Homo sapiens: one gene and its partner. The protein of the gene in region 1 purifies or fractionates together with the protein of each later gene. This does not show direct contact. Each region holds a gene or a part of one and is shown in the gene's direction. Other genes may lie near its edges.

The links. The genes of interacting proteins can lie anywhere in the genome.
Region 2: the proteins of ING2 (region 1) and ARID4B purify together in Homo sapiens (affinity purification with mass spectrometry; 3 studies listed by BioGRID and IntAct, with this or other methods). This does not show direct contact.

Annotation. Positions count from the first base shown.
Region 1 is NC_000004.12:183,509,310-183,514,148, forward strand, and holds the end of ING2 (inhibitor of growth protein 2), read left to right. Parts: intron 1-972; coding exon 973-1,643; 3' UTR 1,644-3,120; downstream 3,121-4,839. UniProt on the Homo sapiens protein: Seems to be involved in p53/TP53 activation and p53/TP53-dependent apoptotic pathways, probably by enhancing acetylation of p53/TP53. Component of a mSin3A-like corepressor complex, which is probably involved in deacetylation of nucleosomal histones.
Region 2 is NC_000001.11:235,168,791-235,172,380, reverse strand, and holds part of ARID4B (AT-rich interactive domain-containing protein 4B), read left to right. Parts: intron 1-3,590. UniProt on the Homo sapiens protein: Acts as a transcriptional repressor. May function in the assembly and/or enzymatic activity of the Sin3A corepressor complex or in mediating interactions between the complex and other regulatory complexes.

The DNA of each region.
Region 1 (4,839 bases):
GAGCTGGACCCCAGCCTGCACATTTTATATATAGGGTTGTTTTGAAGGTGTTACAGTACTTAGTAGACTAAAGTGGCATTCAGTGTTCCTGCCCATGAGAAATACTTTTGATCATTAATTAGCCAAACATCTCTTATCCTTTTTTTTTTTTTTTGAGACGGAGTCTTGCTCTGTCTCCCAGGCTGGAGTGCAGTGGCGCGATCTCGGCTCACTGCAAGCTCCGCCTCCAGGGTTCTCGCCATTCTCCTGCCTCAGCCTCCTGAGTAGCTGGGACTACAGGCGCCCGCCACTGCGCCCGGCTAATTTTTTTTGTATTTTTAGTAGAGACGGGGTTTCACCGTGGTCTCGATCTCCTGACCTCGTGATCCACCCGCCTCGGCCTCCCAAAGTGCTGGGATTACAAGCGTGAGCCACCGCGCCTGGCCTTTTTTTTTTTTTTTTTGAGATGGAGTTTTGCTCTGTCGCCCAGACCGGAGTGCAGCGGTGCGATCTCGGCTCACGGCAACCTCCGCCTTCCGGGTTCAAGCAGTTCTCTGCCTCAGCCTCCCAAGTAGCTGAAATGATGAGGGGCGCCTGCCACCATGCCCGGCTAATTTTTGCATTTTTAGTAGAGACAGGGTTTCACTATCTTGGCCAGGTTGGTCTTGAACTCCTGACCTCAGGTGATCCACCTGCCTCGGCTTCCCAAAGTGCTGGGATTACAGGCGTGAGCCACCGCGCCCAGCCTCTTTTTAATATAGATTAATGAGTATTAGTTTTGTGTTCTTTCTTTTCATTACTTTATTTCTAACTATACTTTCATATTAGATAATGTGGTCTTTGTATGAAATAGTTTTTAATGTATATGTACCAAAGAGGAGTATGGTTTCATGGTTTGAGTTCTAATTTCAATTCTGTAAAAAATAACTACCTTGGAAATGTTGTGTCTGCTAACACATGATAACGTTCTCATTTTTCTTTTCCTTTTTTTAGAAACGTTAAAGGAAATTGATGATGTCTACGAAAAATATAAGAAAGAAGATGATTTAAACCAGAAGAAACGTCTACAGCAGCTTCTCCAGAGAGCACTAATTAATAGTCAAGAATTGGGAGATGAAAAAATACAGATTGTTACACAAATGCTCGAATTGGTGGAAAATCGGGCAAGACAAATGGAGTTACACTCACAGTGTTTCCAAGATCCTGCTGAAAGTGAACGAGCCTCAGATAAAGCAAAGATGGATTCCAGCCAACCAGAAAGATCTTCAAGAAGACCCCGCAGGCAGCGGACCAGTGAAAGCCGTGATTTATGTCACATGGCAAATGGGATTGAAGACTGTGATGATCAGCCACCTAAAGAAAAGAAATCCAAGTCAGCAAAGAAAAAGAAACGCTCCAAGGCCAAGCAGGAAAGGGAAGCTTCACCTGTTGAGTTTGCAATAGATCCTAATGAACCTACATACTGCTTATGCAACCAAGTGTCTTATGGGGAGATGATAGGATGTGACAATGAACAGTGTCCAATTGAATGGTTTCACTTTTCATGTGTTTCACTTACCTATAAACCAAAGGGGAAATGGTATTGCCCAAAGTGCAGGGGAGATAATGAGAAAACAATGGACAAAAGTACTGAAAAGACAAAAAAGGATAGAAGATCGAGGTAGTAAAGGCCATCCACATTTTAAAGGGTTATTTGTCTTTTATATAATTCGTTTGCTTTCAGAAAATGTTTTAGGGTAAATGCATAAGACTATGCAATAATTTTTAATCATTAGTATTAATGGTGTATTAAAAGTTGTTGTACTTTGTCTGTGACCTTAATTTTCTGCACTGAGTTACCAAATATTTCCAACCAGGTAGTCTTCAGATCACCTGATGAAAGGAGCAGGGAACAGGAAGAGGGTGGTGTAAACATTATAAAAATTTCACAAACCATGCCTATTTCATTTTCACTTAAAACTGCAATGTTATTTTTTGGGTAAACACAAAAGTTTCACTAGCATTTTAGTTATACATGCTTAAAAAAATGTTAGATGTAGTGGGATTTCTCTTAAGCATCAAATGATCTTGGGTACTTTAAAATACAGACACTATGCCATTTGAGCTGCTTTTTCCCTAGTCCTATTTATACGTTGGCTTGTTCATCTCTAGTCTTCTAGGAGTTTAAGGAACTGGAGATAAGAGTAATTTGGGATTCCATGTGGAATAATGTGCTCTTATGAGAGTACGTGCTGCTGTCTTTTGCTTAGTAGCATTTTGATCCACTGTCAGTAGCCCATTTGTCAATGCCTTGCTGCTGCTTTGTAGATATACTTAGTCTAGTGCTTAATAAGGGAGTTGTTTTGTGTTTTCTTTTAATTGGGACAGGTAAGAGTAGTTAGCATACCAAAAATATACATTGGCTTACATTGGCAAACTTTGGGTTATATAGTATCACGGCTCAAGGTTGAACAATTTAAAAATACATCTTAATTAATAGTATTTTCCATGTGACCTGCTGCCAGGATGCGTAGCCACAGGCCTATCAGTGGAAAGGGGCATATAGTAGTCTTTAAATATTGCCTTTATGTCAGAGAGTTGTTTTAAATGGTTTTGCTAGTGGTTATTGTTCATTTCTGTCCCAATCAGTGACTATTTTAAATAATAGTGTATTTACTGTCTTAACTTCTAGTATTGGTGCTGTTTGATGTTTTCACATTTAATTAACTTATTTCATCATCATAATGCAATTAATGTATTTGTAAATTGAATTTTCCAAGATTCTGATATTTGAAGGGTAAGCATCTTGATGGATATATGTCCATATGTTTAGAGAAGGTTTTGGTTTTGGGGGCAGCAGATTGACTAGTTCTTTAAATCTGTGTGTAACGTATGTTTTATTCCTCATTTCTTCCTAATCTGATGATCTTGATTCTTTTTGATTAACATGAAAAATCCTGTCTGCTTGTTTTGGGAAAAAAAAATGCTTTTTTTCTCTTCTAGCTCTCCTGTGTGACTTTTAGGCATGTCATTTCACCTTGTCTGGGTGTCAGGTCATTCACCTGTAAAATGAGTTGGCTTAAATATCTCCGAGATTCCTTGGAAATTTCTACTATTTGCACTATAGTGAGGATTTTAATAATGACATGACTTCTCTTTTCATTAATTTTGTCCTTCATTCTGAGGTATAAAGATAGTTTAAAGGTGAGTTTGGAGATGGGTAAATGTGCAATATTTGTTAGCTTCTGTCCTAAGAATATTTGGATTCATGACTAGAGCTAGTTGATTCTATTACCTTTTGAGTGAGAAATGTTAGACAGCATGATTAAGAATTTAGCAAATCCTTTCTCATCACCATAACTTAGCTGAGTTGTAAGGAAATCCTTTTGAGAATATGGCATTTTGTTTTAGTGATTACAACCTTGTTACCAGAATGGAGCTTTTTACTTGACACCATTAAAAATATCAGTATGGACAAAACCCCCAAAGCCTTCAGATGCGACTTACATAGAAGTCACCACTTTTTCATACGTAAATCTGCCTTGGCAGATGGGAGAAAAGAAACGACTTCCTAATAGAAATGCCAAAGTTTGGATTAGACTTGACGGGAAAACGAACCTGGAAAATCCTGGAAGGTGTGCTCTCTTTAAGACCTAATATCTGAAACAGTTTTATGACTTTTTTGTTTTGTTTTCTACACATCTTGGAAATAGAAGTCTTAAGCATGCGTAGCATTAGGACTGGAATTTCTTTTGTTGAGTATTCTGGATCTCATATCATGGTTACCAACTCATACTGTATACACCAGTGGTTCCCAAACTTAACGTTGGAATTACCTGGGAGTTTCAACAAATACTGATATCTGTGCCCCACCCTCAGCAATTGTGATCTAAATTCATTTGGAATGTGGCTTAAGCATTAGAATTTTTAAAAGATCCCCATTATAATATATGGAAATGTTTTGGAACCACTGCCACATTTCACAGTTTTCAACTTATTGAAAGCTGCTGTGGATTATCTACATCCAGATTTATGCAAATCTGAAGCAGATACAGATGCTTATACACACATGAGAGTATCTCCTGCCCCCAGTGGCTCCACCACCAGTGCCTGAATACTCAACATCTGAGTGCTAATTAATGTGCCAGGCACCGTTTTAAGCAGTTGTGGTGTAAAAAGGAAATATCCCTGCTTGTGGACGATACATTCTAGTGGAGGAGTCAGATACATAAAATGTCAGGTAAATTGCTAAAGTGAAAGGAAAACTGAGTAAAGGGCTGGAAATGAATGGAAGGGGGGGTGGCAAGTCTTTTATTTATGGTAATTTAAAAAGGTGTCCCTAAGGAAGTAATCCTTAGAGCTAAGAGCAGAAATAAGGCAGGCAAAGATTTGAGGGAGGGAGGAGGGAACAAGCTTGGCAGGTTGACTAAAGCAGGGCATTAGAGCACAGTGTACAAGGGGCTGGGAACTGGGGACTCTTGGAAGCCATGGTAGGAAACTTGGGAAGCCATTGAGGGGTTTGAGCCATGGTCTGACATAAAGGTCACTCTGGATACTGTGTATACAATATTATAGGGAACCTGGGTGAAAATAGATTTAGGAGAAGCAACTCAGAAGATTTAATAGCAACTCAGAAGTCTTCACATCGAGTGTTGGTGGCTTAGCCTAGGGTGGTAGCAGCAGCAGTAGTGGCTAGTGGTAGGACTCTGTGTACTAAAGGTACAGCCAACATAACTTTGGCCCAGGGATTGGAAGGCAAAGAGATGACAAGGGTGACTCGGGTTTTTGGCCTGAAGGGGGAAAAAGAATAAAAATTTATGGTTTGCACTTAGGTTTGAGATGCCTAATAGATTTCCAGTAGAATCCAGCATGGAACCCGGC
Region 2 (3,590 bases), on another chromosome or scaffold:
GGTCTCTAACTCCTGACCTCAGGTGATCTACCTGTCTTGGCCTCCCAAAGTGCTAAGATTACAGGCGTGAGCCAAGAGTGCCCTGCCAGTATTTTTACTTTATTTAAACATAAACCAGAATTTCTCACTCTGCAGTTAGACTGCCATGACTTTGTCTATTTTCAGGCAAATTCTTTAATTTCTTTATCTTATTTTCCTCATCTCTAAAGTGAAATTATCTCAAATAAAAAAATTATTTCAGATCATAATATTCACTTTCATAGAGTTTATACTCTACCAAAAACATCCTAATAAGATAATTTCAGATATTGAAAGCACTATGAAGAAAATGATGTTAAGGTAGTGATTGGATGGGTTACTTTAGATTACAAATGGTCAGTATATTTTTGTTGATACCTGAATGACATGAGGAAGTGAGATAAATTAAAATCTGGGAGGAGGCCGGGCACAGTGGCTCATGCCTGTAATCCCAGCACTTTGGGAGGCTGCGGTGGGTGGATTGCCTGAGGTCAGGAGGTCGAGACCAGCTTGGCCAACATAGTGAAACCCCGTCTCTACTAAAAAATACAAAAAATTAGCTGTGCGCGGTGGCGGGTGCCTGTAATCCCAGCTACTTGGGAGGCCGACGCAGGAGAATTGCTTAAACCCAGGAGGCAGATGTTGCAGTGAACGGAGATCATGCCATTGCACTCCAGCCTGGGCAACAAGAGCTAAACTCTGTCTCAAAAAAAAAAAGACATCTATCCAGAAACTCCTTCTAAACAATGTTTTGTAAATATAGTCACCACAAATTCTTTATAATGAATGATTTTGCTAAATAGAGCCTCTCTACTGGGTTAGCATTAAAAGTCGGTTCCTAAATACTATTTTAAGAAAAATCCATAGGAAAATGCTTATCCTGGTTACCAAAGAAATGCAAATCAAATAAGGTATCATTCTTTTTTTTTGGAGATGGAGTTTTGCTCTGTCGCCCAGGCTGGAGTGCAGTGGCGCGATCTCAGCTCACTACAACCTCCGCCTCCTGAGTTCAAGCGATTATCCTGCCTCAGTCTCCCGAGTGGCTGGGATTACAAGCGTGCTGCCACGCCCAGCTAATTTTTTATTTTTAGTAGAGATGGGGTTTCACCATGTTGGCCAGGATGCAGGATGGCTCGATCTCTTGACTTCGTGATCCGCCTGCTTCAGTCTCCCAAAGTGCTGGGATTACAGGCATGAGCCACTGCGACTGGCCCAAATAAGGTATCATTCTTACCAAAAAAATTAAAACTAAAACCAATGCAGGAACAGTGTAGTGAAATATATAAGTTATGAGTTGTAATATAGTAGAATATTACTCAACTTTGAAAAGAAAAGGATCTGTATGTACTGATATGGAACAATCTCTTAAAATATATTGTTTAAAAAAAAGTCAGACACTGAACTATGCTTCCACTTGTGTGTGTGTGGTTTTTTTTTTTTTTTTTTTTTTTTGAGACGGAGTCTCGGTCAGTCACCAGGCTGGAGTGCAGTGGCGCGATCTTGGCTCACTGCAACCTCTGCCTTCCGGTTCAAGCGATTCTCCTGCCTCAGCCTCCCGGGTAGCTAGGACTACAGGTGCGTGCCGCCATGCCCAGCTAATTTTTGTAATATTATTATTAATTTTTGAGACAGAGTATCTCTCTGTCATCCAGGCTGGAGTGTAGTGGTGCAATCTTGGCTCACTGCAAGCTCCGCCTCCCGGGTTCACGCCATTCTCCTGCCTCAGCCTCTCTAGTAGCTGGGACTACAGGCGCCCACCACCACATCTGGCTAATTTTTTGTATTTTTAGTAGAGACTGAGTTTCATTGTGTTAGCCAGGATGGTCTCGATCTCCTGACCTTGTGATCCGCCCACCTAGTCCTCCCAAAGTGCTGGGATTACAGGTGTGAGCCACCGTGCCCGGCCTCCACTTATGTTTTTAAAGGTGTTGCTATATCTATATATTTTAAATTTGCATATCATATCTCTAGATTCTAGAGATAAAATTCCTGTAGAACAGGGGTTGCAAACATTTTCTGTAAAGAGACAATAAATATGTTAGGCTTTGTGGGCCATGTGGTCTCTGTAGAAACTACTTATCTCTGCCATGGTAAGTGTGAAAACTCCCATAGGCAATATGTAAACAAATAGGCATGGCTGTGTTCCAGTACAATTTTTCTTTCCAAAGACAAGTAAGCCAGATTTGCCCCTGGGGTAGTTTTTTTGCCAGCCTTTTTTCTAGAGTTGTAATGAATATGAATCAACTGGTAGCAATGGGGAAGGGAATTTGGGTGATTAGGAGGTTCCTGGATGAGAGTGAGATTTGCTTTTCTATCCTATTACCCCTGTACTGAATGAATTTTTTAAATCTGTGCATGTATTTAAAAATATTAATTTATGAACACTAATTTATAACAGAGAGGCCGGGCGCAATTGCTCACGCCTGTAATTCCAGCACTTAGGGAAGCCAAGGCAGGCAGATCACCTGAGGTCAGGAGTTCGAGACCAGACTGGCCAACATGACGAAACCCCATCTCTACTAAAAATAGAAACATTAGCCGGACATGGTGGCGCATGCCTGTAATCCCAGATACTCAGGAGGCTGAGACAGGAAAATTGCTTGAACCCAGGAGGCAAAGGTTGCAGTGAGCTGAGATTGCACTGCTGCAGTCCAGCCTGGGCAACAGAGCAAGACCCCCATCTCAAAGGAAAAAAAAAAAAAAGGAGGCTGAGGCAGGAGAATGGCGTGAACCTGGAAGGCGGAGCTTGCAGTGAGCCGAGATCGCACCACTGCACTCCAGCCTGGGCGACAGAGTGAGACTCCGTCTCAAAAAAACAAACAGGCTGGGCGCGGTGGCTCACACCTGTAATCCCGGCATTTTGGGAGGCTGAGATGGGCGGATCATGAGGTCAGGAGATCGAGACCATCCTGGCTAACATGGTGAAACCCCATCTCTACTAAAAATACAAAAAAATTAGCCGGGCGTGGTGGCGGGCGCTTATAGTCCCAGCTACTGGGGGGGCTGAGGCAGGAGAATGGCGTGAACTCAGGAGGCAGAACTTTTAGTGAGCCAAGATCGAGCCACTGCACTCCAGCCTGGGCGACAGACAGAGCGAGACTTTGTCTCAAAAAACAAACAAACAAAAAAAAACGAAAAAAGGAAACAGTGAGAGACTTCCTCTGATGAAAATAACTAATGTGTTATTTGCTTTGTAAACCTAGTGGCGGAGAATGCAACAGTTGAGCTATGCACTGTTTTGATCCAACTTGAAGAAGCAATTAAGCCTCCCACTCTTGTCACCATTTACATGTACAAGAAAACTCCTAAGTACAGAAAGATGGAGGGATTAGGAGGGGACAAATGATTTTTGGATGGATTGCAGATTTTTCCTGTTTTGATACTTGTTTCACTGTTACAAAAAGTGTATTCTGTATTTTATTTCTGTGTCTTGTAGACTAGGCACAGTTCTTTCCCTCTTTGACCCACGCAGGAGCCTTCCCTGGTCTGTCCTTTTCATTACTTCTGTAGTTGGGCACTGTCTAGCTTCTTGAGCTACACTAGCTTTTCCTTTCTTCACATCGTAGAACTGT